3 separate regions of the Homo sapiens genome follow, and regions 2 and 3 are each linked to region 1. The links come from fine-mapping of genetic effects on gene expression. A gene starts in region 1. Each other region holds a variant in brackets. All regions are shown on one strand. Distances are between the middles of the regions.

What was found.
Region 2: its variant is fine-mapped to the expression of COPS5 in activated CD8 T cells (Schmiedel 2018, PIP 0.94).
Region 3: its variant is fine-mapped to the expression of COPS5 in whole blood (TOPMed, PIP above 0.99).

The regions. Positions count from the first base shown.
Region 1 is chr8:67,058,010-67,066,009 of GRCh38, forward strand. COPS5 (COP9 signalosome subunit 5) reads right to left here and starts at 4,124. Exons shown (of 8, transcript NM_006837.3): 1 at 3,845-4,124; 2 at 1,202-1,436; 3 at 74-202. The coding sequence starts at 3,987. CSPP1 (centrosome and spindle pole associated protein 1) reads left to right here and starts at 6,383. Exons shown (of 31, transcript NM_001382391.1): 1 at 6,383-6,529. RefSeq lists enhancers at 3,791-3,880, 4,061-4,330 and silencers at 6,261-6,400, 6,339-6,526.
Region 2 is chr8:67,763,370-67,771,649 of GRCh38, forward strand. No RefSeq gene overlaps it. Among named protein-coding and RNA genes, the nearest start is that of CPA6, 21 kb to the left of the region's middle. The variant C/T (reference allele first, on the strand shown) is at 3,644.
Region 3 is chr8:67,260,520-67,268,799 of GRCh38, forward strand. ARFGEF1 (ARF guanine nucleotide exchange factor 1) reads right to left here. Exons shown (of 39, transcript NM_006421.5): 11 at 6,824-6,923; 12 at 6,572-6,711; 13 at 6,357-6,465; 14 at 5,487-5,688. Among named protein-coding and RNA genes, the nearest start is that of ARFGEF1, 79 kb to the right of the region's middle. The variant G/A (reference allele first, on the strand shown) is at 3,979.

The DNA of each region.
Region 1 (8,000 bases):
TCTTATTTCTCAGTATACTTGCTTCAGCAAATCTTCATAAAGAACTTAATTAAACTGGTTTTAAAATTCTTACCACCACTGCTACAAATGGTTCCTGGAACTGCTGATTGAGCATCTGAGTACTAACATCAATCCCAGAAAGCCAGCAGCCATAGCCAGGGTGGCTATGATACCACCCGATTGCATTTTCAAGGCGGCCAACCTAACAAATGAAGGGGCAAAAAAGTTTAAGATTACTCTTTAATTAATTTACAAGGTACCAGTACAATAAGGGTAACCAGTCTCCTTCCCATCTCCTTCTCCTCAATTACCCACTTTTCTCAGCCCAGATGCGAAATCTATGGGCAATTGCTTACCCTTACAGAGATATTCTTTGTATACAGAATACATATTCTTTGCACATACATAGATTGATAAAAACACACACAATAGCATACCACATAACATAATAATGTTTTACACTTTGTTTTTTCACTCAATAAACTGCTTTGGAGTTTGCTTCATATAAATCATCAATATATATGATGGTTATCTTTTTATTTTTTTTTCTTTTAAAGGCTGCCTGGCAGTCCACTGATGGATATACCATAATTTATTTAGCCAGTTTTATACTCAGGAACTGAGTTAGGTTGTTTCCAAATTTTTTATTTTAAACACGTATCTGATAATAAGTGTGAGAGTTTATTTAAAAAAAAAATAAAATCCATGCCATAGACCGGGTGCAGTGGCTCATGCCTGTAATCCCAGCACTTTGGGAGGCTGAGGTGGTGGATCACCTGAGGACAGGAGTTTGGGACCAGCCAGGCCAACACAGAGAAAACCCGTCTCTACTAAAAATAGAAAAATTATCCAGGCCTACTGGTGCACGCCTGTAGTCCCAGCTACTCAGGAGGCTGAGGAGGGAGAATTGCTTCAGCCCAGGAGATGGAGGTTGCAGTGAGCTGAGATCACGCCACTGCACTCCAGCCTGGGCAACAGAGTGAGTCCCTGTCTCGAAAAAAAAAAAACAACAACAACAAAAAACAAAAAAAACCATGCTATAAGTCTTATCAGGCTTTTAATCTCGTACATTTTACATATAAATCATTAAAATTTAAATATAAAATTTCATGTAAAGGGGATAATTTTAAGTTTAGAAACTCAAAAGTCACCTTGAGACTCTAACTTGCAATTACTAAACTATAAGAAACAACATTTTTACCTGTTTTGCATTTTCTATGTATGCAGCCATGTATTCATATGCAGCAGCCTGAGCATTTACTCGGGTTTCAGTGCCCTCCACAGGCAAAGCAAAACTGTCCATAATGATCATGGTTTCACCATCCACCTTTCCTAGCATCAGACCCATCACTTCCAAGTTGCCTCCCGATCTGGCATGCATCACCATCTTCAGCAGAGCCAATGCTGAGATTTTGCAGTACTTAAAGTAATGGTGACTGCAAAACAAAATCACAATGTAATTAAATTCCTTATATAAAGTAAAATTTCAGAAAAGTTTTTATGAAGATAAAGAGTAAGTATTGAAGGAATTTAGAGCGATGGAAAGGGAGTGTAGACTACGGGGAGAAAAAGTAAAAAAGGACAGTTTTTGCAGGCTGGAAACAATAAGTATGTCATAGTGCAGCAACGTATCCCCCTTAGGGGAGGGGAAAAGTCTGAAATACTTTTTTAATATGCTATTCAAATAAGGGAGTAACATGACCAGTTCAACAGACTTTTTCTCCATTAATTTGGAATCACCCAATCTTGGATTCTGACTGCTTGGATGGTTGTGCCTAACTGTTCTGAGGCCTAACCTTCTGGCCTAATGGTTAAGAATGTGGGTTCTGACATTCATCTGCTAAGGTCTGAATCTTGACATTGCCATTCCCTAGCTGTGGTATTGGGACAACCCTGTAATATCTGTGCCTAGGTTTCCTTTTCTGTAAATAGGGATATTCATAATTGTTGTTAGGATGAAATAAATGAAATAATGTATATAAAGTGCTTAGTGCCTTACACATACTAGAACCCTAATAAGTGCTAGCTGTTATCAGCATTATTAACCTGTCTCTTAACCCTACTCTCAAAGAACAGAGTGTTGAAGGGTGGGCTTCCCTGTTATATCAGCCTTAAATTAAAAAGTAGCCCTAATATCCTAGTCTCCTATGATCACTATTTCAGAGTTGGTCATCAGTGAATTAAACTCTTGAATAAAATTACATTTTGGTCTCATTAATGCAGCCCAAGACAGCTAGGATGAATATAATTAGAGCCACAATTAGACAGTGAGGCAGGCCAACAGTTTCCAAATATTTAAGAGTACACGAACCTAAAATGCACAGCCTGTTACAGAAGCAAGCAGATAACCAAGCAACTTAAGCAGCCTTACAGAGCAGTCAGTCAACGTCTCTACAAAGCCTTTTTAGATGTCTGCCCACAGAAAGAATCCAAATTTAATTCCTAAGCTTTGCCAGATTTCAACCAAAAGCTGAAAAATGTGTAGACCTCATGTTGGAAGTCAAGACATGAATCGAAATCTTGGCTTCTCCCTTTACTGGAGAAAAGAAGAAAGACAAGTTACTGTGCTCCTATTACATACATTCTAGACGACTCTTTTTATACATTATCTCACCTAATCTCTATGACAATACCAATAAGTAGGTCTTATTTCCATATTATGACAAATGAAGATGGATAAGTAAATTTCCTAAGGTCAATCAACTAGTTAGTGACAGCTGTGAGATTTGATCTTAGGTCTGACTATTGCTCAGTTGAGAGTTCACTTATGTCAGTATGATCATAAATTACATAACGTATTTGCTTGTTTTTTAATTTGTAACAAAAGGATGGATATACTGTACTGGGTTGTCATGAAAATTAAATGACGTGGAAATCTCTAGCTAGGTGCTTCCGCAGTTCACCATTGTGGAATCTGAATACTGAGAGACAAGGCTAGCCTTGTAAAAAAAACTGTGAGGCAGTAGAAGTATGTCCTCTTGTTGACCACAGCTTTCCTTTCTATCTAACCATTAGCTTTCGTGCTCTTTTTACTCTCAAACATAACCCGTAATAATTATCTTTTCCTGATAGCAGGAAATCTCTCAGGAGATGCTCTCAGGAAAAGATAAATATTATGGGTAAAGATCCCTCGACTTGTCACCACTCCCAGGGAAAAATGGATATTGTTGAAGGGCAAAAGGTCTTAAGCTCTATTTTTATAATTTCTGGCTTATGGGAACTGGTGGAGTAACATTTTAGAGACCAGGTAGTAGAGCCTCCGTGTGCCTCCGAAATAATTACCAGCAATCAAAAAACTATTATAGGCCCAGGCCTCACGCCTGTAATCCCAGCACTTTGGAAGGCGAAGGCGGGAGGATCGCTTGAAGGCAGAAGCTCGAGATCAGCCTGAGCAACACAGCGAGGACCCATTTCTATTAAAAAAAAAAGAAAAGAAAATAGCTCATAGCTATTTTTGAGACCTTGGGCTGCTGACTCGATTTCTGAAAACAGCTGCAATCCCCAGTTTGGGATTAGTTGAAGACCCAAACAAGGTGCATGTCGACACTGGGCTCAAGGTAGGGTGTGTGGCATATATGACAATACGGATGTTCAGAAGTGACAACTTAAATCACCGCTTGTTGTTCTCCCCTTACATCACCCGGGGGCAAATGGATTAAAGCGACAGAAAGGGGAGTGAAAGCCCCAGCGGAGGGCTTAGGCTCTACTTGCAGATCCAAGACGCATATTCTGTCCCCCTCCCAGTCGGTGAAAGCTCTTCACCCCTTTCACCTCCCTCTCCCTCTGGGTCTCTTAAACTCCGCCACCCTTTCCCTCCCCTGCGTCTCGCCAGGGACCTCCTCACTCCTTAGTCCAGGGCTTCGCCGCCAGGATTTCTTGCTGCTGTTTCTTGTCGTATTTGTAGATTTCATCGATACTCTGAGCTTCCTGCATGTTGTTGGCCAGTTCCCAGGTTTTCTGGGCCATACCGCTCCCGGACGCCGCCATCGCCGAGGAAGCGGAGAAGTTGTCGTCTCTACAACCAAGACGCAACTTTACCTCGCTAGGTTTCCGGGTGTGGGCCTTGACCCTCCGCACCACGGGAACAAACTCTTACCTAGACTCTTGGGGCAGCCATGACACCTAGAACCGGAGGTGAAGTTGGTAGAGACCATTCAGGGAAGACAGGGACCTTTCCGGGACATGACGATATAAACAGCAGTTACAGTAATAGCGAGAGACGAATCTTCTTGTTGCTTAAATGAGAACATCTTGTCTCGGAAAATTATATGTGTGAAATAGAACAAACAAAGTTATAGGGTATGGGAGTGGTATAGTCTTCCGCACCGGAAGAAGGGCATGTAACGTTATTCCAGAAACTGGTATTTGCCTTCTCTGCTTCTAATGCGCAGGCTCGGCCTCCGCCATATTAAAGGTAGCTGGAGCCTTAAGAGCGGGATGTGGAGGGCGGAAAGTGTTTTTGTGTGGGTATAGGTACCTTAAATGAGATAAGTTTGTTGAAAGACTAAAAGGTAAGGCTGTCTGTTGTACAACTGAGCTAAAAGTCGTTCTGGAAGCTGGTTGAGAGGAAGATAAACATGGCATTCCCGTTTACTTCAAGATGACTCACTGTACATGCGTAAAAGCTAACGGGCTCGTGGTGGCTTGGCACTTCACTTGCAGATGGGCTTTTTCTATCGATGCGAGGAGGCAGTGGGTACTCCTTGATTGCTTTTTTGCGCTTTGGTAAAAGTTAACATCTACGTATATATAATGTGCCATTACTGATCTGAAAATGTCCAGTACTCAGTTCTCGTAACAGGTTACAGTTAAATCTTTGGCACTCCTGTGAACCGCATTTGTTCCCAAAGCGTAATTAATCTGGGTAACTGGTTTGTTTTCTTCCTACAGTTAATACAATGTTTAATTTTTTTATTAGTTCACGTGTTTTAGGTTTTCTTTTTTCTCCATCTCATTCTTCCATCCGTGCAAGATTTTAAGTTTCAAGACACAGGGAGCAGGTCTGCGTTCCTTGTTTTATCTCCTAGCACCTAGCATAGGTGTTCAAGATTTTTTTTTCTTTTATTTCCTGAAAAGATAGCATGACAGGCCAGGCGCGGTGGCTCACGCCTGTAATCCCAGCACTTTGGGCAGCCGAGGCGGGCTGATCACTTGAGGTCGGGAGTTCAAGACCAGCCTGGCCAACATGGTGAAACCCCGTCTCTACTAAAAAAATACAAAAAAAAATTAGCCGGGCGTGATGATGTGCGCCTGTAGTCCCGGCTACTCATGAGGCTGAGGCAGGAGAATCGTTTGAACCCAGGAGGCGGAAGTTGCAGTGATCCGAGATTGCGCCACTCCAGCCTGTTAGACAGAGCCAGTCTCAAAAAAAAAAAAAAAAAAAAAAAGAAAGAAAGAAAGAAAAAAGAAGAAAAAAGAAAAGATAGCACCACAGCTGTTAACAACCTGGCCCCTATGCACCTCTTCCAGCTTCATCTCTTTTTAGTCCCCCCTTGAAACTTTTCATTCTAGCAATGCAGATATCTTTACTTTGGCTTTGCATATGTGGTCAGCATTGCTTGAAACGCTCTTTCGTAAATTTTCTGCCTGGGAACTCCTATTAATCTTTAAAAATGCAGTCCAGTGAGATCGACCACGAACTCTTTCTTGACGCTCCAATTACCATTCCTTCCATTATGTCTGTAAGTCTCCGTAGGTGCTTCTATAACTGTTACAATGCGTTGTAATAATCAGTTAAGACAAAAACATTAGAATTATTGAATCCACACCACAGCTTGCTGTTTTGGCACTGACTTTCCGTTGAAGAAAATTTCCTTTAAAACCATCTTACAAAGAAATTTAGGGTAAAATAGTACATTAATACCTACCCTTAGTTCCACTCTCCTGGGAAACTAGAGGTCTCTTTTCTAGTGGTAGCATATGGCCATATGCGATTGTATTGGGGTGAACTGAATAATATGTTGAAAATGGTAATGAAAGCCCAGGACCCAACGTTGACCACACTCCTGGGCTAGGAGTAATGCCCTGAGAGGTATGCCAACACTTTTCCTCTCACTACCACCCCTCCCCATTTTTCTTTCCAGGCTCTTACACTGTTCCTAAGCTGGCTGGTGCATGGGAGGCTGGAGAGGCTGCAATAGATTTAGCCTGAGAAGTGGCCCCCACAGTTTAATAGCCCCTGGGCACAGCAGGAGAACGAGTTGACCAAGTCCCCGGCCAGCGTACTGGCGAACCGAGAGCAGCGGGCAGCTATGCGGCCTCCAGGACAGCAGGGGGCGATGTCTTGCCGCGCGGCCGCCTGCAGTGGGGGCGGGGCCGTACCCGGCGGTTGGCGAAGGGCGAGCGGAGGGCTGGGCCTGAGGGGCGGAGCCCCGGCCCGGAGGTCTGTCATGCTGTTCCCGCTCCAGGTGGCCGCTGTAACCTCTTCGGTCCGCGACGATCCTCTAGAGCACTGTGTGTCTCCCCGGACGCGAGCCCGCTCCCCTGAGTAAGAGTCAGCCAGCCGCGGATGGGGAGCGTGAGTGGCGAGGTGTGGCCTGGGGTGGTGTAGGTTGAGGGTGGAGGGTCCTGGGGCTGCATTCGCTGCCCCGGAGCGGGGGCAGGGGCAGTGGCTCCCTCGGGGCGTAGGTCTCGAGGCAACTAGGCCGGCGACGTGCCAGAGTTACAGGCTCTGGAATCTGGGGGTGGGGGTGGGGTTTCTTGTCGGCAGGGGGTCTCGTGGCGGCTGGGTGCGGTGGGGGAGGTGCCCGAGTTAAGGGTGTGGAGAGTTGGGATTTCGCCGCCGTGAGGCCGGCATCGGTGACTACGAGTTATGAGGGTTGGGGGCGGGAGTTCTGTGAGCAGGGGTCTTGCAGCTGCCGGGGTCGGGGAGGTTCCCTGGTTACACGGTCCGGATTCCTGGGCCACTGCGGTCGCTGCTGCCCGCGGTGTTGTTGATAGCTGGTTGCCTGACGACGCTTCCTAGTCAGCCACCTCCAGGGCCCGGGGGCGAGCGGTTCCTTGGTTCCCATGCGCCTTCTCTCCCCAACGGCCAGGCCCCCCCTGCTCCGTCAAGCCTCCCCGAGCGCCTTTCTTGCCCCTCGGTGCTTGTTATTGTTAACGTGGGAGCGCTTGTGCGCACTGCTTTGCTAGTAAAACTTATTTAATCTTCACCGTAGCTCGTAGCTCGTACTGTTGTGACCGTATTTCCCCCCGTGATTGCCCGACTGCTTGAGCTTGAACCTCTTGTTTCTAACTGCCTTGATTTTAGGAATCTTATGTGGGACTCAAATCCAGTTGTCAGTACATGTTATTAATGGGACTCATCTTTTGAGAGAGGCTAGCTCTCAAGATTGTAGGATTAAGACGCTTAACTAGGATTGCGGGGAAGACTAAATTCTGAAGTAAACCATCACCTACTTTCCAAACACCTTGGAAAATGCAGGGGCTTAAAAGCAACCGATAGGAATTTATAAAAAGCCTAAATTAGGCTTTATTCTGTGTGAAGGAATGACTTGTAATGTTGACAAGCTCCATGGAAGCTATTGAGGTATTTTCTTTTCTCCATATCATTCTTCTCCCTAGGAGGTCGCTAGCTTTCTGGTGATTAAATGTCTGCTGAAATGCTCCACAAGGATCAAGTTTTTTTGTTTGTTTGTTTTGTTTTGTTTTTGGAGACAGGGTCTCGCTCTGTTGTACAGGCTGGAGTGCAGTGGCATTAGTAGAGAAGGGGGTTTCACCTTGTTGGCCAGGCTGGTCTCGAACTCCTGACCTCAAGTGATCCGTTTGCCTCGGCTTCCCAAAGTGCTGGAATTACGGCCCTGAGCCATTGTGCCCGTTCAAGTTTGGGTCTTCTGCCAGATGGCCGCCTGGGAGGGAGTGGGTGAGTTTAGACAGAGTAAATTGAAACAGGCTACTTTCGGTACAGTTTTTCTCAGATGAAGCTTTCAGACAAATATGAATTAACTGTTACACATTTGAGCAGATTTCAGATTATCCTTTTAACATCATTCTGACTTAGG
Region 2 (8,280 bases), 710 kb after region 1:
TGTTCACACATCAACATTTCTTTCTTTCTTCCTTCCTTTCTCTGTCTCTGTCTCTCCCTCCCTCTGTCCTTCTTTTTTCTTTTCTTTTCTTTTATGTGGGTTACAACTACTGATATTGACTCTATTGGAAATTGAAACTAAGAACTTTTGAAAATGCTTACTTACAGATTTCTTCAAAGGTAGCAATGATAAAAGCATTCTATGCTAATAACTTCGCCTCTTCTCTTCTCTTTTCTGACGGGGTCTTGCTCTGTTGCCCAGGCTGGGGTACAGTGGCACCATCTCAGCTTACTGCAATCTCCACCTCCCAGGCTCAAGTGATCCTCCCGCCTCAGCCTCCCAAATAGCTGGGACTACAAGTGTGCACCACTACACTAGGCTAATTTTTGTATTTTGGTATTTTTTTTTTTTTAAGAAACAGGATTTCACCGTGTTGCCCAGTCTGGTCTCCAACTCCTGGGCTCATGTGATCCGCCTACCTTGGCCTCCCAAAGTGTTGGGATTACAAGCATGTAATCCTAACACCACCACTCCTGGACCCTGCCCCAGACTTTTTCGTGTTAAGTGGCCTACTTATTCATTTTCTCCCTTGTTTGGGAAGCCTCTTCTTTGCCTGTTTCTTTCATTTCTTCTCTCTCATGTTCCCAACGAATAATTTTTAAGTATTTTATCTACCCCTTCTCCCTGATCTGGAACGCTCCTCATCCTCTCTCCTCCTTTTTCCAGGCCTTTTCCTTTGCAAATGCCACCCTAATTCCTAATCTTTGACCTTCTCCACTAACCTTGAAATCCTCTACCCCTACTTTCATCTGACTTCCCTCTCAGTTGTGTCCACATTTCCTTCAGTGTGAACTCCTTATTCTGTCATAAGCAAACTCTTGTTTGTCCAGACTGCTTTTCTAACTCCATTTTTTACCTGCTTGCTAGAGCAGAAAATTTGCTCCCAAAATTTTACTGAACTGTGTCTATTTTGCTCTGCCAACTTGGGATTCCAAAACTGAAGATCAATCCAGTGCCTTTCTAAGTGCTTTAAGTGCTTTTCTGAATTAAAGGAAAGCATCAAATATCCAACCAGAATTCAACACAAAAGTTAACAGCTGTTGTATAAATAATCTCAGAGAGCCTCTTGTTATCTGAGGGAAGCCTTCTTTATTGAATTGTATTTGAAACACACAACTTGGCATTAATCTCACAGCTGCAAGATTTCTCGGAGGGAGAAAATATAGTCTGGATAGGGTTACATAAGCTACAGATGAAATAAAACCTATCTGTGAGCTGAATTCTTCAGCTGATCTGAAGTGATGGTAGGAATCATTTTCAAAACTGCTTGGAAGCATCGGTACGTATTACCACAGGGACTGCAGGTGACTTCACTGGCTTTTTCTTTTTTCTTTTATACAGTGTGCATTTTGGCCTTGCCCACCTTTTGGAGAGACAAGTCTCACTCTTACAGACACTTTCTTTGCTTCTTTCCAACAGATGCTGAGCACAAATAATACCTACTTAATTTTGGTAGAAAGAGGAAAGAATTCAATGCACCAAGTGGGTCAAAGTCTGCAATTACACTAGCGGGGGTAACTCTTGGATAATGAGCACTCAGTTCACAATTATGTTGTACATGTAATTTGTCAGTTGCACACTGGTTTCCACCCTCCCCCTGAATTCTGTCTCTTCCTGCAAGCTTCCTCAACTGAGTTTATTTGGAAAATGCTTTCTATATGCTGGGCATTGCCCTAAATTAATGGATCCCGAAGTTTGCTGCACATTGAATTCACTTGAAGAGTTTTTTGAACTCTTAATCAGTACCTAGGGATGGAGCTAAGTATCATTATGTTGTAAAGATTCTCAGATGATCCCCAAATACAGCAAAGTTTGGAAACCATTGTTCTAAGTGATTTATCCATACTAACTCACTGAATGCTAGCTACACTGTGAGGTATTACTATTACTATACTTACTCAGTTGATAAATATTTATTATCTTCAATATATTGGGCATGTGCTAGGTATTGGAGATACTCCAATGAATAAGCCAGATAAATAGCTCTGTACTAATGAGCCTCCCATCATATTAGATTTTACGGATGGGATCACTGACACTAGAAATATTAGGAGACTTCCTAAAGATCTCACTGATAGTAAGTGCTAGGGCTGGGATTTGTAGGCAGGTGACCTCAGAATCCACCCTCCTAGCCTCCACACCTCCCTGCCTCTCTTCTGCAGTCCCACAGTGTCCTGGCATAAGGTCACTCTTCAGTCCTGACTTCACGGGACTCTCCTTGGAACTGGACACTATTGGCCACTCCTTTCCTTTTCTATATGTTCTGCTGCAGGACCCATGACATCATTCTCTCCCTGTTTTCTTCTATCTCTCTGGTTGTTCCTTCTCATTATCCTTTTCTGCTGCCTGACTTCTGATAATGGCTCTCCAGAAGTTCTGCCTCAGCCCTCTTTCCTTCTCACTCTTTATAATCTTACCTCCTTGCCCACTTAACTTCCAAGTTAACTCCTAGGCATTCGTTTGATCTCAGCCCAAATGCTGCCTCCTCTGAGAGACTTTTCCTAATTTCCCGAAACTAGATCTAGTTCTCCTTTCCTGTATTCCCACAAGGCTTGTTACTTTTTCTTAAAGCATTTCTCAGAGTCTGTAATGATAAATTTGCATGTCTGTCCCCTCCAACAGCTCCACCAGTCTGTAGCACAGGTGCCTTGTCCGTTTTTGTTTTTATTTTTGCATCTCCATCAATTAGCACCATATATGCCACCTTGTAGGAGCTTAGTAAATATGTCTTTTCTTTTCTTTTCTTTTTTTTTTTTTTGGAGATGGAGTTTTGTTCTTGTTGCCCAGGCTGGAGGGCAATGGCTCGATCTTGGCTCACTGCAACCTCCACCTCCTGGGTTCAAGCGATTCTCCTGCCTCAGCCTCCTAAGTAGCTGGGACCATAGGCACGTGCCACCATGCCCAGCTAATTTTCATATTTTTAGTAGAGATGGGGTTTCACCATGTTGGCCAAGCTGGTCTCAAACTCCTGACCTCAGGTGATCCACCCACCTCAGCCTCCCAAAGTGCTGGGATTACAGGTGTGAGCCACCATGCCCAGCCTAGTAAATATGTCTTAAGAGAATGAGCATTGCACATTCTATCATGGATTCAAGCATTGCCTGTATTAGTGTTTCTCAAAGTATGTTGCACGGATGTCTGGACCAGGTTAACTTGGGATATTCACTACAAATGCAGAATCCTAGGCTCCACCTCAGATCTACTGAATCAGAGTCTCTGAAAATGATCGCATTTTCACACAGAGTCACAGAAATATTATTTCTTAAAAATGTTTCCCACGGATGCAATCATCCACTATTTATCCATATATTTAGTAGTCATCTTTGAACCCACATCCTCCACTGTCCTCACATCAAACTGGGTTTTCTGGTCTAATCAACTCTACTTCCTATACATTTACCTACTGTTTTTCTTCTCATCCTTGAACCATCTCCATGCAGCTAGCTCTCACATGGCTTCCTTTCTTTCAGTCTCTTCCCTGAGATCCTCCTATACTACTTCTCTGCATGGCTCAACATACCTTCAGAGTGATTTTTTTCCAAAGTGCAAATATAGTCATGTCATTTCTTTGCCTAAAATGCTC[C/T]AGTAATTTTCCCAAACCATGTTTTTTTTGTTGTTGTTGTTTGTTTTTTCAGACAGAGTCTTGCTGTGTCACCAGGCTGGAGTGCAGTGGCATGATCTGGGTTCACTGCAACCTCCTCTTCCCAGGTTCAAGCAATTCTCCTGCCTCAGCCTCCCGAGTAGCTGGGACTACAGGCATGCACCACCACACTCAGCTAATTTTTGCACTTTTGGGAGAGACGGGGTTTCACCATGTTGGCCAGGATGGTCTCAGTCTCCTGACCTTGTGATCTACTCGCCTCAGCCTCCCAAAGTGCTGGGATTATAGGCGTGAGCCACCGCGCCCGGCCCAAACCATGGTTCTCTAACAAAGAGAATGGTAGCAGCAAGGGAGAGAGCATTTCAGGTGGGAGTGGTCGACTACATTTTTCCTCACTGAGAATCCAAATAAGATAAACCCTGCAAATAGCCCATTGGTTTCAGTAGACTGAAAGTAATGGAACCCAGCTTATGGATTATGTAAAGCCCTGTATAGCATGTAGATTGTGTTGCTTGTAGCTGGTTTGACCCCAGCTGAAGCAGTGGCAAAGCTGTCTTGGCTTTTACTGCTCAGAGTTATCAGACTATTCCAGGTCACAGAGATTGGTCAATCCAGTTCTCAGTGCTCACCCCATGTGTTGGAGAGGATAACTCATCATCCTTAGTATACTTTTTCACTTGTCTTCCAAGAAACTGCTCTTGCACAGTCACTTTCTTTTAGTCCCTATTTATAGCTCCCCATCTTCTCCCTGTCCTCTGAACATGGACATGCTCCAGAACTCAGTTCTTAATCATCTCTTATTTATTTTTACATGTATCCCCTTGATGATCTCATCCAGTCTCATAGCTGAAAATACCACTGATACGCTGACAATTCCCATGTTCCCATATTTATATTTCTAGCTCATGATTTTTTCCTAAACGCCAGATTCCTAAATCCAACTTCCTATTTGATAGCTCTACTTTGATGTTGGATAGTAATGATAACATTAACATATCCCAAACAGAATGCACAGCTCTATCCTAACATCTGCCTCCAAACCTACTCTTTCTACAGAAGTTTCCATTTGAGTTGGTGGCAATTCCATGATTCTAATTGCTCAGATCAAAAAGAAATCATTCTTGATCACTCTTTCTCTGAGCACACTGAATCTGTCAAAATATGCTTTTGGCTCTACTCTTCAAGGTATCTCCAAACCCAATGATTTCTGACCACTTCCACTGATTCCACCCTGGTGCGAGTTGCCTTGGTTTCTCACCTAGATCATGGCAGGTGCCTTCTTACTGTTTTTCCTACATATATCATGGCTCTCTGTAGACCCCTCTCAATGCATTGGCTAGAGTGGTCCTTTAAAGATGCAAGTTCAATTGTGTCATTTCTCTGCATGTCTTTCCACTTAACTCATGATAAAACCCAAGATTCTTACAGTGACCTTCAGGGCCCATGTGATTTAGTTCCTCGTCACTTCTCTGACCTCATCTGTAACACTTACACCCTGATCACTCTGTACCAGTATGATTGGCTGAATAATGTCTCCCAATGATGTTCATGTCCAAATCCCTGGGACCTGTGAATGTGACCTTACATAACAAAAGGAACTTTGCCGATTATATATTAGTCCATTCCCATTTACTGCTGTAAAGAAATAACTAAGATTGGGTAATTTATAAAGAAAAGAGGTTTAATTGGCTAGAGTTACAAAGGCTATACAGGAAGCATGATGCTGACATCTGCTTGACTTCTGGGGAGGCTTCAGGCAACTTATAATCATGGCAGAAGGTGAAAGGGAAGCAGGTACATCTTACATGGCTGGAATAGGAGCAAGAGCGAGAAGGAGGAGATGCCACACACTTTTAAACAACCAGATCTCAGGAGAACTCACTATTGTGATGACAGCACCATGGGGGATGGTGTTAAACCATAAGAAACTGTCCTCATGATCCAATCACCTTCCATCAGGCCCCATCTCCAACATTGGGGATTACAATTTGACATGAGATTTGGGCAGGGACACAGATCCAACCCATATCAGATGGGATTAAGTTAAATATTTTGAATAGGGAGGTCACCCTGAATTATTTGCATGGGCATCTTACTAAGTTTTGGCTGCTATAATCCAATCCTGTAGACTGGGTGGCTTAAAAAACAGAAATTAATATTTTACAGTTCTGATGGCTGGGGAGTCCAAGATCAAGGTACCAGCAGATTTGGTGTTTGATGAAGACACTATTCCTGGTGTGTAGACAGCTGTTTTCTTGTTCTGTCCTCACATGGCAGAAAAGTAAAGATTACCTCTCTTGTTTCTTTTTATAAGGGCACTAATCCCATTCAAGAGGTCTCTACCCTAATGACCTAATTGTCTTCAAAGGTTCCACCTTTAAATACCATAACATCAAGGGATTTAAGCTTCAACATATGGATTCTGGGGGGATACAAACATTTAGTTTATAATAGTGGGCCTGAAGTAATCATAGGGTTCCTTGTAAGAGGGATGCAGGAGGATCAGATTGTGTAGAAAGAGATGTGACCACGGAAGCAAGAGATTGTAAAGTGACTTGGGAAAGTTACTAACTTGGCAAACCTCAGTTTTATCATCTACAACATGCAAGTGTAATACCCACATCACAGGGTCATTATGAAATAAAATGCCTTGTATATTTGTGTTTTGAATCAATACATAAAAGTTTCTATTTAAATTTCATAAATTTCCTCTTATTTATTTTGGCCCCAATTTTTTCTTCAGTCTGGGGAAAGAAAAGGCAAAATCTACTAAAATCTTTATTCTAATATTCAATGGATATTTATGTACCTTTTTAGGTATTCATTTAGGTCATTGACAACATTATAAGAAATAACAAGACCAAATACAAAACCCTAGAGACCCCCTTCCAGGTGGATTCTTATCCATATTTAACATTATTCAACCATCTACAAATCCAGTTAAAATGAGCCTGCAAATATGGCCTTGATTCATATAGTATATTTATCCTTGGATCATGTAGAAAAGCTTTTAAACTGCTTTGCTAAAATCCTATATGGTATCTATGACAATTCCTTAAACTGATGGTTACTTGGGCAATTCCTTTCCTTAGTGAACCCACTTGGAACCTATGGAACCTCTTGACCACCTCTTTCTTTCCTAAATATTGGCAACCTATAAACCATTTTAGAATTTTTCTAGATATAGATATGAAGTTTATTCTGTGGTATTTTCTATGGCTTATCTTTTGAAGAGAGAGGCATTTTACCCCAAGTCTTAATATATTTTCATTTCTCTGATTTCTCCTGGGGAATCTATTTGGGTCCCTGATTGCACCTGCACATTCCCTTTGTATCCTGAGATATAATATGTCTTGGTCTGAAAGTTTGATACCATCTACTGTGACCAAGTACTTTATTTTCCTCTGTATCTTGGGATTCAGTTCCTGCTTAACAATGTTAGTCCTTTCTACACAGTTTGAAGATCATTTCAAAAGTTAACATTGCCAGATAGTTTTGTACTCTCAATTGTTTTAAGGCGTCAGTTTCTATACCAAATTGGAAGTATTGTTTGGCAATATGATTAACAGATTGAATTTCACTTAGACAAATTTTGTTTTCCCTGTAAATTATATTTTTATTCATTAGAGTTCATACATTTCTGATAGCAAGTAACATTTTTCTGCCTTGACTTTATTTAAAAAACACAGTGTAGAAATCTTCATTTCACTTAACTTTTGAATCATTCCTATGATAAGGGTGACTTGGGATTGTTAGTATGTTACACTGGAGTTAAATTAGTTCTTGTATTTTAAGATATTCATTTTCTTAGTAAGTGAAAATGTAAAATGTGTACCTGGCACAATTTCGCGAGGGAAAAACTCACTGAAATGTGTTAATGGCCCCTTTTCTCAGCTCCAGAAATAGCTGCTATGTGCTCTTTCATCTTGTGTGTGAAATACCAGACCTTCCCCTGAAGTCCTCTCCAAGGACATCAACTCTGTCTATTGAACTAATTTTATAACAAGACTACTTAATTTTTTACTAAACAAGGAAACTATAGGACAGAAAGAGAGAATTTCTCATTAATTAGTTCACTCCAAAATTAGTGTTAAGAAGCCATATTTGGCATATTTTATTTTATATTACCAGTAAATGGTAAGCATTTTTTTTTCTATTTTTGCTTTATGTAGAGATACTCAGCTATGTTAGAGTAACTAGGTAAGTGTCCTTCACTCTGTGGAAGAAAAATTTCTAGAAAACTAACTCTTAAAAAACACTGATTGACATGATCAATTTGAAAATGATACCACCGGGGTCTACATTTCTGAGTGTCTTGTCCTTCTGACTGGGAAGGGTAAAATGGGGGTATCTTGAGTAGTAATGGTTGTAGTAACAAATCCTGGGCATCTTCTCCTGTGTCAGGGACTGAACAAAGCACAGGGTGTCATCACATTCAGTCTTCCTGGCAGCACCGTAAAGCAGGTGTTATTTTTATAGCCATTTTGTAGAAAAAGAAGCATAGGATCCGAGAGGTTAACAGCATTGCCCAGCTCGACAGTTATCAACTGATAAAGTCTGAATTTTAAAATAAGTGTCTGACTTCAGATACTGCTCTTAAGTGTTATGTAATACATTTT
Region 3 (8,280 bases), 200 kb after region 1:
GGGGTGACACAAACCACGTCCATATAAGATGGTAAACTTAATCAATACTTGTGTGTGTTCTGACTGCTCCACTGACTGGCTCATCTCTCTTCCTTTCCTTGGGCTTCCCTATTCTGAGACAAAAAAATACTGAAATTAGGCCAGTTAAGAACCCTACAATAAGTGTTCAAGTGGAAGGAAGACTCGCACATCTCTCACTTTAAATAAAAAACTAGAAATAATTGAGCTTAGTGAGGAAGGCATGTCAAAAGCCAAGACAGGCTGAAAGCTAGGTCTCTTGAGCCAAACCAAGTTGTGAATGCAAAGGAAAAGTTCTTGAAGGAAGTTAAAAGTGCTACTCCAGTGAATACACCAGTAGGAAAGCAAAACAGCCTAACTGCTGATATGGAGAAGGTTTTCACGTGTGAAAAGAAGATCAAACCAGTCACAACATTACCTTAAGGCAAAGCCTAATCCCAAAAAAGGCCCCAACTCTCTTCAAGTCTATGAGGCTAAGAAAGGTAATGAAGCTGCAGAAGAAAATCTGGAAGCTAGCAGAGGTTGGATCATGAGATTTAAGGAAAGAAGCAGTCTCCCAACATAAAAGTGCAAGGTCTGATGGCAAGTGCTGATGGAGAAGCTGCAGCAAGTTATCCAGAAGATGTAGCTACGATCATTTATGAAGGTGGTTATACTAAACAACAGATTTTCCATGTAGATAAAACAGTCTTTCTTCTACTGGAAGAAGATGCCATCTAGGACTTTCATAGCAAGGGAGGAGAAGTTAATGCCTGGCTTCAAAGCTTCAAAGGACAGACTGGCTCTCTTAGGGGCTAATGTAGCTGATGATATTAACTTGAAGCCAATGCTCATTTACCATTCCAAAGATCCCAGGGTCCTTAAGAATTACATGCTAAATCTACTCTGCCTGCACTCTAGAAATGGAACAACAAAGCCTGGATGACAGCACCAGCTGTTTACAACATAGATGACTGAATATTTGAAGCCCACTGTTGAGATCTACTGCTTCAAAGAGAAGATTCCTTTCAAAAGATTACTGCTCATTGACAATGCACCTGATCACCTTAGAGCTCTGATGGAGATGTGCGATGAGATTAGTGTTGTTTTCATGCCTGCTAACACAATATCCATTCTGCAGCCCTTGGATGAAAGAGTGATTTTGTTTTTGCAGAAATGCAGTCTCACTATGCTGTCCAGGTTGATCTCAAACTCCTGGGCTCAAATGATCCTCCCACCTTGGCTTCCCAAAGCTGGGATTACAGGCATGAGCCACCGTGCCCTTTCCTCAGAAGTAACTCTGAATTTCAAGTCTTTTTTTTTTTTTTTTTTTTTTAAAGAAATGGGGAATTGCTACATTGCCGACGCTGATCTTGAACTCCTGGTCTCAGGCCTCATGAGTAGCTGGGATTACAGGCATAAGCTACCATGCCAGGCTAACTTTCAAGTCGTAAAAGCTGCCATGTAGAGAGATACTACTTAAAAGCTGCCATGTAGAGATACTACTTAAAAGAGATACTACTTAAAAGCTGCCATGTAGAGAGCTGCCTTATAGTTGCCATGTAGAGAGATACTTCTGTTGAATCTGGGCAAAGTAAGTTGAAAACCTTCTGGAAAGGATTCACTGTTCTAGATGCCATTAAGAACATTTGTGACTCATGGGAGGGGTAAAAATACCAACATCAATAGGAGTTGGGAAGAAGCTGATTCTAACCCTTATGGACGATTTTCAGGAGTCCAAGACATCAGGGGAGGAAGTAACTGCAGATGTGGTAAAAGTAACAAGAGACTTAGAAGTAAAGTGTGAAGATGACACTGAATTGCTGTAACCTCATGATCAAACTTTAACATATGAGTAGCTGCTTCTTATAGACAAGTGAAAACAGTGGTTTCTTGAAATGCAATCTACTACTGGTTAAGATGCTGTGAACACTGGTGGAAAGAAAATAAGAGATTTAGAATATTCCATAAATTTAGTTTATAAAATTGCAGCAAAGTTTGAGACGACAGACTCCAATTTTGAAAGACATATTACTGTAGGTAAATACTATCAAACAGCATTACATGCTACAGAGAAATCTTTCGTGAATGGAAGAGACAATCAAGGCAAAAAAGTTTACTGCTGTCTTATTTTAAGAAATTACCACAGCTACTCCAGCTTTCAGCAATCACCACCCTGATCAGTCAGCAGCCATCAACACTCAGGTAAGACACTCTACAGCAAAAAGATTACAACTCATTGAAAGCTCAGATGGTTACTAGTATTTTTCAGCAATAAAGTATTTTTAAATTAATGTGTGTACATTGTTTTTTAGACATAAGGGGGTTATAGGTTAATAGACTATGGTACAGTATAAACATAACTTTAATGCACTGAGAAATCAAAAAAATGGTGTGACTCACTATATTGCAATATTTACTTCACTGCTGTGGTATGGAACTGAACCCACAATATCCCTAAGGTACTCCGAATATACATTCTACTTAATCTTCAAGTAATCTTGGCTCATTTGTCCAAATTAATTAGACCACACAAAACCTTTCTCAATACAGCTCCAGATTCTCTCTCACTCCCTTCTCCTTCCTCTGCTCCCATATATCATATCCCATTCCCTAAATCTATTTTTAGAGTCTATTTCCTCTGCATGTCTTTTACCTGCTCCATTCACAGGGGAGTCTCCCTCAGGCTTAAAGATCCAATTCAAATGTTACCTCTCTGTTTACAGATCATTTACTTCCTACTTTTGTTACTTTGGTGCTCCAACACCTGTCATTTGGGCTATTGCAAGAGTTCTTAAATGGTCTCCCTCTAGCTCATGTTGCCCATATTCTAATGCACCCTTCAGGCTGCCAGCAAAGTCCTATTACAAAACAGAAATCTGATGATGCTACTCCTCTGCTTAAAGTCCTTCACTAGCACGCTAGCGCCAAGAGGAACAAGACAACAAAAAGTCCTTTACATGGAGAATAAGGCCTTCTGTAATTTAGATCCAACCCAATGCTCTAATCTTACCTCCTGTTATTCCCCCTCCACTCTAGCCTGCCATGCTGAACAAGTGCTCAGATGTCCTCCCTTTCCTCTGCTGCTGCACATGCCATTCTCTTAGTCTGGGATGCTCTTCCTAAAGGTTCCCTTGTCAAGTTCTCATCCAACCATAACCACTTAACATTCATAAAATGAAACACTTTTCACTAAGCTAAACATAATCCCCCTACCCCTAGAAGCTCTCACTGTAATGGAAGAAACACAATTTTAAAGAATTATAATACTAAAACTGTGACAAATAGATGTATTCACAAGGTAAGAAAATAACACAGTAGAAGTAACTAACTTAGATGGTCATAATATATTTCCTGGGAAAGGTGACTCTGGAACTATTTTGAAGAACAATTATATCTTTTATAAACAATAAGAAAAAACATGCAAGAGAGGAAGAAGCCATACTAAAACACAAAAGCACAAGACAGTATTATATAATAAATAGTTCTGCATTGTTGGAAAGTGAGGTGAGACAGAAAAGTGGCAGGAAATGAAGCTTAGAGTCCAGCAGATCCAAATCATGAAGGTATTATCATACCTTCAAAGCAGCTTTGGTTTTATTCTCTAAGAGAGGGAAAAAATAGACTTTCATTCAAGAAAGGTTACTCTAGTTAAGCATGGGAAAAGACTGAAGAATGAACAAAACCAAAGAAAAAGGTAAGCCAATTGAAAGATTATACTAGTTGAGGAAATAAATAATCATGATTTGATTTGCAAGAATAGTGGTGGGAGATCGAGAAAAGAGTACAGATTGCAGGGATATTAGGAAGTATAATCAACAAGTCTTAGTGACAGATTAGATTCGAGAATCTAATCCTTTGAGGGGAAAATCTAAGCTAACTCCCAGGATTTTAGCTTATAAATTTAGTAGCATGCTGGGGTTACTACCATAAATAAGAAATACAAAAATAACAGGCTTCTCTATTTGTCTTTTGTTTTGG[G/A]TAGGAGAACTAAGGGGCTGATGTTGGAAAAGGGCTGAGGAACAGAACGCTGGCAATGCTAAGATGCACGCAGGAAGAAAGAAAAAACAGCCCACAAGACTGAGACGGCATAGTCAAAAAGGTAGGAGAGAAACAGGATAGACTGGTGTCATGAAACAGTTGTAGACAAGTATACTAGGAATACAGTTCCATGAAAGCATTCTCATCAATGGCTGTATTAAGTAGAAAGCAAGTCTAGCTGCTGAGAGAAGGACTGGGAGACTTCCACTTCGAAGCCCTCTGACTACTCCTTCTCATTTCTCAAGTACTTCAAAATAAGTACCTTGGCAGTACTTACTCTGTACGACACTCTTTTATAAACATTTACACAGTACTATTTTTAAAAATTGCTCATGTTTAGAATGCAATCTTGAATACAAGGACCAATGCCTTCATGGTGCTTGGCAATAGTCCCAAGTACCAAATATGTGTTTACTGGGTGACCAGCAGAATTTCAATATGCATATTTGTTTACACACACTAGACCAAGAGCCTCTCAGAAGGAAGGGCTTTTCCATGTATCTAGTTTCCCCAGGATCTTGCATAATATCTGGAAAGATGAGACTTTAATAAATATTGACTGAACAATTAGAATTAATGCAGTAGTGACAGCTATTTCCTGAGGCAATTTGGTAAGATTTTGTAATTTTAAAATAGAATATGTGTACATTTTTGTTGAACTGTTTTTCATATTAACACTGGAGAAAAAAGACACCTGAACATTCACTAAAAGGCACTGCTTAAGTATCAGGAAGAAATGCTTTACAGAAGTAGCAAACCAAGTAAGCACACAGGGGAATTTTTAAGTTTATAATAGTTAGATTCATGGAGACGGCAAACAATTTCATTTTTCCTTATGGCATCTCTTTGAAAAAAAGAGATGGGCAACAAGAGAAAGGAAGGCAGCATGGTGACATTCACAAAGGAAATAGTCCAGGAGCAGGCAGGTATCACAAAGCTTAGTGGGAAAACTGACTTCACAAGATTAGGATCCGGTACACTAGCCAGGCTGGAAGAGAGGTGATCACCTCATCAACATATAAAAATGAAATCAATAACAAGAATAGTACATTTGTAAGCCAGCTGGAAAAAATGTAAGACCTATAAAGGAGTACTGATAGCTATTAGAAGTTTCATATTTTAAATGTTTTGAGTTGTCACATGATTAGAAAATATAATGGGGGGATGTCATGAGCTAAACAGTGCAAAATTGCACAGATGATACCCATCAACAGCACTTATAATATGGTGACAAATTAATTTATATGACAAGAGTGGTTGGGCATTACAGGAATCTAGTTGGGCTAGACTGCAATGAACAAGGGGGGCTGAATAGGAGCCTCGTGAATTAGATCCATGAGAACTATCCTCCATTTTACTCATTATAAGGTGATAAACCCACGGCAGGGGTGGCACTATACTGGCAGAGAGATATTCAATAACATTTCTCCTTAAGCTATGACACTTACAAATCTATCCCTTGTTCTATTATTTCTTTTTGTTGCTTTAGGACCTCAAATTGTTCTGGATTATCAGTGCCAGACATCTGTGTACTGTAGCTGCCTATTCCTGATGATGATGTTGACTCCAGGGAATTTAAACTTCCGTATCTGTTTATTGTCTCAGGGTGTTTGATTTCACTCATCTCTTGCTCTGAGGGTTTTTCCTGACCTGAAAGAAGAAAAATTGATAGAGTACATTATTCTATCAAAGAAAAAAAAAAGTGTAAGGGCAAACAAATTCTTGAATAAGGCAAGGCGTTTCAATGTTGCTTAGATATCTATTTAATACAAAATAACTATTAGGTAACATAGTAAACAACATACTTTGATATTAAAACACACTGTAATTTGTACGTGTATAGTCTGCACCATTAGGAGGAGTTCTTTTTGCAGTTGCAGTGCTGAGTATCCACTGGATTTCTGCTCTCAGCTCACTCCTCATGAGGAATTGTTTTCGATAATACCAGTGTAGCCCTGCAGCTATGAGTTTTTCTCTGAGTGAGGGTAAACATCAAACACAGATGAACAATTCAACCTTCTTAAAACATACTGCCTTTTATATGTTTCCTCTATAATTATAATACAAGAAAGTTGCATAAATATGCTTCATTTTACATAATCAAAATATTTCTAAGAAGATTTAGAAAAAAATAGTTTGGATAACTAAGTTAAAAATCTCACAATTTTAAAGCTAGACATTTAACTCACAGAGAATGTTTCCTCATCAGTTAAATGAATAAATATGTCATGAAATTGGTTTAACAGCAGCTGCAACTATCCTCCAAAGTATTATTCACTTAAAATGACAAAGAATTACAGCTCAAAATATCACCTTACCAAGAGTTGTCTGGGAGTTGGGATTCACATACTGATCCTTACTCCATTCAACCATACACTTCAAAATCGACACTAAGCATTCTAAACCTTTTTTCCTCAGGCTCAATTCCTACAAAGTAATTCAAAAACAAAATTTTTTTTAAAGGTCTTTTAAGGAAAACACATGACTCTTTCCTGGTAAAGTTTAAATTTGAAAATGTTTTTATAGTTCTTACCTGAACATTACTCATACCAAGTTCTTGACTGCCCCTTCCTTGAGCAATTTTTGATAGATCATTTACTAGTCTTTCAAATATATTGGCTGCATTTAAGTCACAGTCATAGTTTACATAAATATCCACTACACTCTGAGCATCTGTAACAATATAACATTAATTTCAACAAAGTACATCTAGGATATGAGTACATTTGGCCTTTTAAATATCTAATAATAAGAAAGAGATAATAAAAAGGATAATTTAAAATACCTGCACAAATCCTCGTCAGTGTCTGAATAACCATCCATTTGTGATCAAATGAGCTGGTAGAAGTTTCCAAAATGTATAAGAAAATTTCTTTAAAGAACACCTGTGATTAGGAGAAAACTTCTGTTTAAAATATTGTTTAGAATTCATATGTGTGATCACTTTTTAAACATCCCAGAGCTATAGAGCAGGTATTAGGACCCAGGCTCTTATGGAGTTCAACTCCTTTTGAGTTCCATCTCTGAATCCTCAGGACTAAAATATCTTGGGTAAGTGACTTAAACTTGCCCTTCTAGTTATCAGTACTGCAATTCACATTGATGTGTTTTGTTCTCAACACAGCTGCTACAAAAGAAATATGCAAAGATTTAGAGTTCCTCTAGGTGATAATTTCTTTAACATTTTTACAGAATATAACTTACGCTTTTTTAATCCCCCTCCAAAAGCGTAATTTATACTTCTGTTCATCAGTTATATTTTTCAGAGACGTTCTAGTACTGAGAGGCCTAACTGTTCGTAGATTTAAATGTAACTGATACTCTAATCAACACAATAAAAACAATCTAAGTCTCATACGGTTTTATTTTTCTAATTACTCACAAAAGTGAAAATCTCTACTGTTTGAAAACTACATATGAACTATTTCTCACTACTCTTTACACCAAATAATCAAGCAGTGAGTTAATCAACCTAATGAGATAAATTTCAATTTAACAGATAAGAATTTTCAGATTTAAATGTATTCTATAAAAGTGACTTTAAGAAGGAATGACTGAAACAACCAACATATTAACATTTATGAAACATATGCATTATGAACCCAGAAAATCACATTTATAGTATCTCCCCCTAACTGGATTAGGTACCCCTGTAATGTGATTTTCTTTCACAAAACTCAGCATATTTCTATTTACTTGTTTAATATCAGTATCTCCTATAGACTGTAAGCTTGAAGACAGTAATGACCAGGTCTTTCTTGATAAAGATCACGTCCATATTGCAGGGCACATAGTAGGTGTTCAATAAATACTTATGGCAACATGGCCACAATTCCCAAAAACTGCATCAAAGTACCCCAGAATGCTGTAGCAAACTCATGAGGGTGCCCTGAAAAAATTCTGAGGCAAAATTCAGAGGGAGATACATCTGTTGGATACCTCAAAAGATTGCTCATGGTTTCAAATAAATCACACTACATTCCCTTCAATGACATAATTATCTCCGCAAAGCTGGGTTTTGGTAGTTGCTATGATAAAAAACCAAGTACTGAATGAAAATCAATGAAGTACAGGAATGAGGGGGACAGTATTCAATTCCAAGATCTAAGAAGCTGTGTGCAGTTTCTAATAGGCACACGCATCCCAGTGGTAAGTAATTGCGGTAAAGAATAAAATAAAAACATTATTTTTCTTTTACTTTATGCATACTATTGTCTTTGAAATACATAGTAGGCTGTGAAG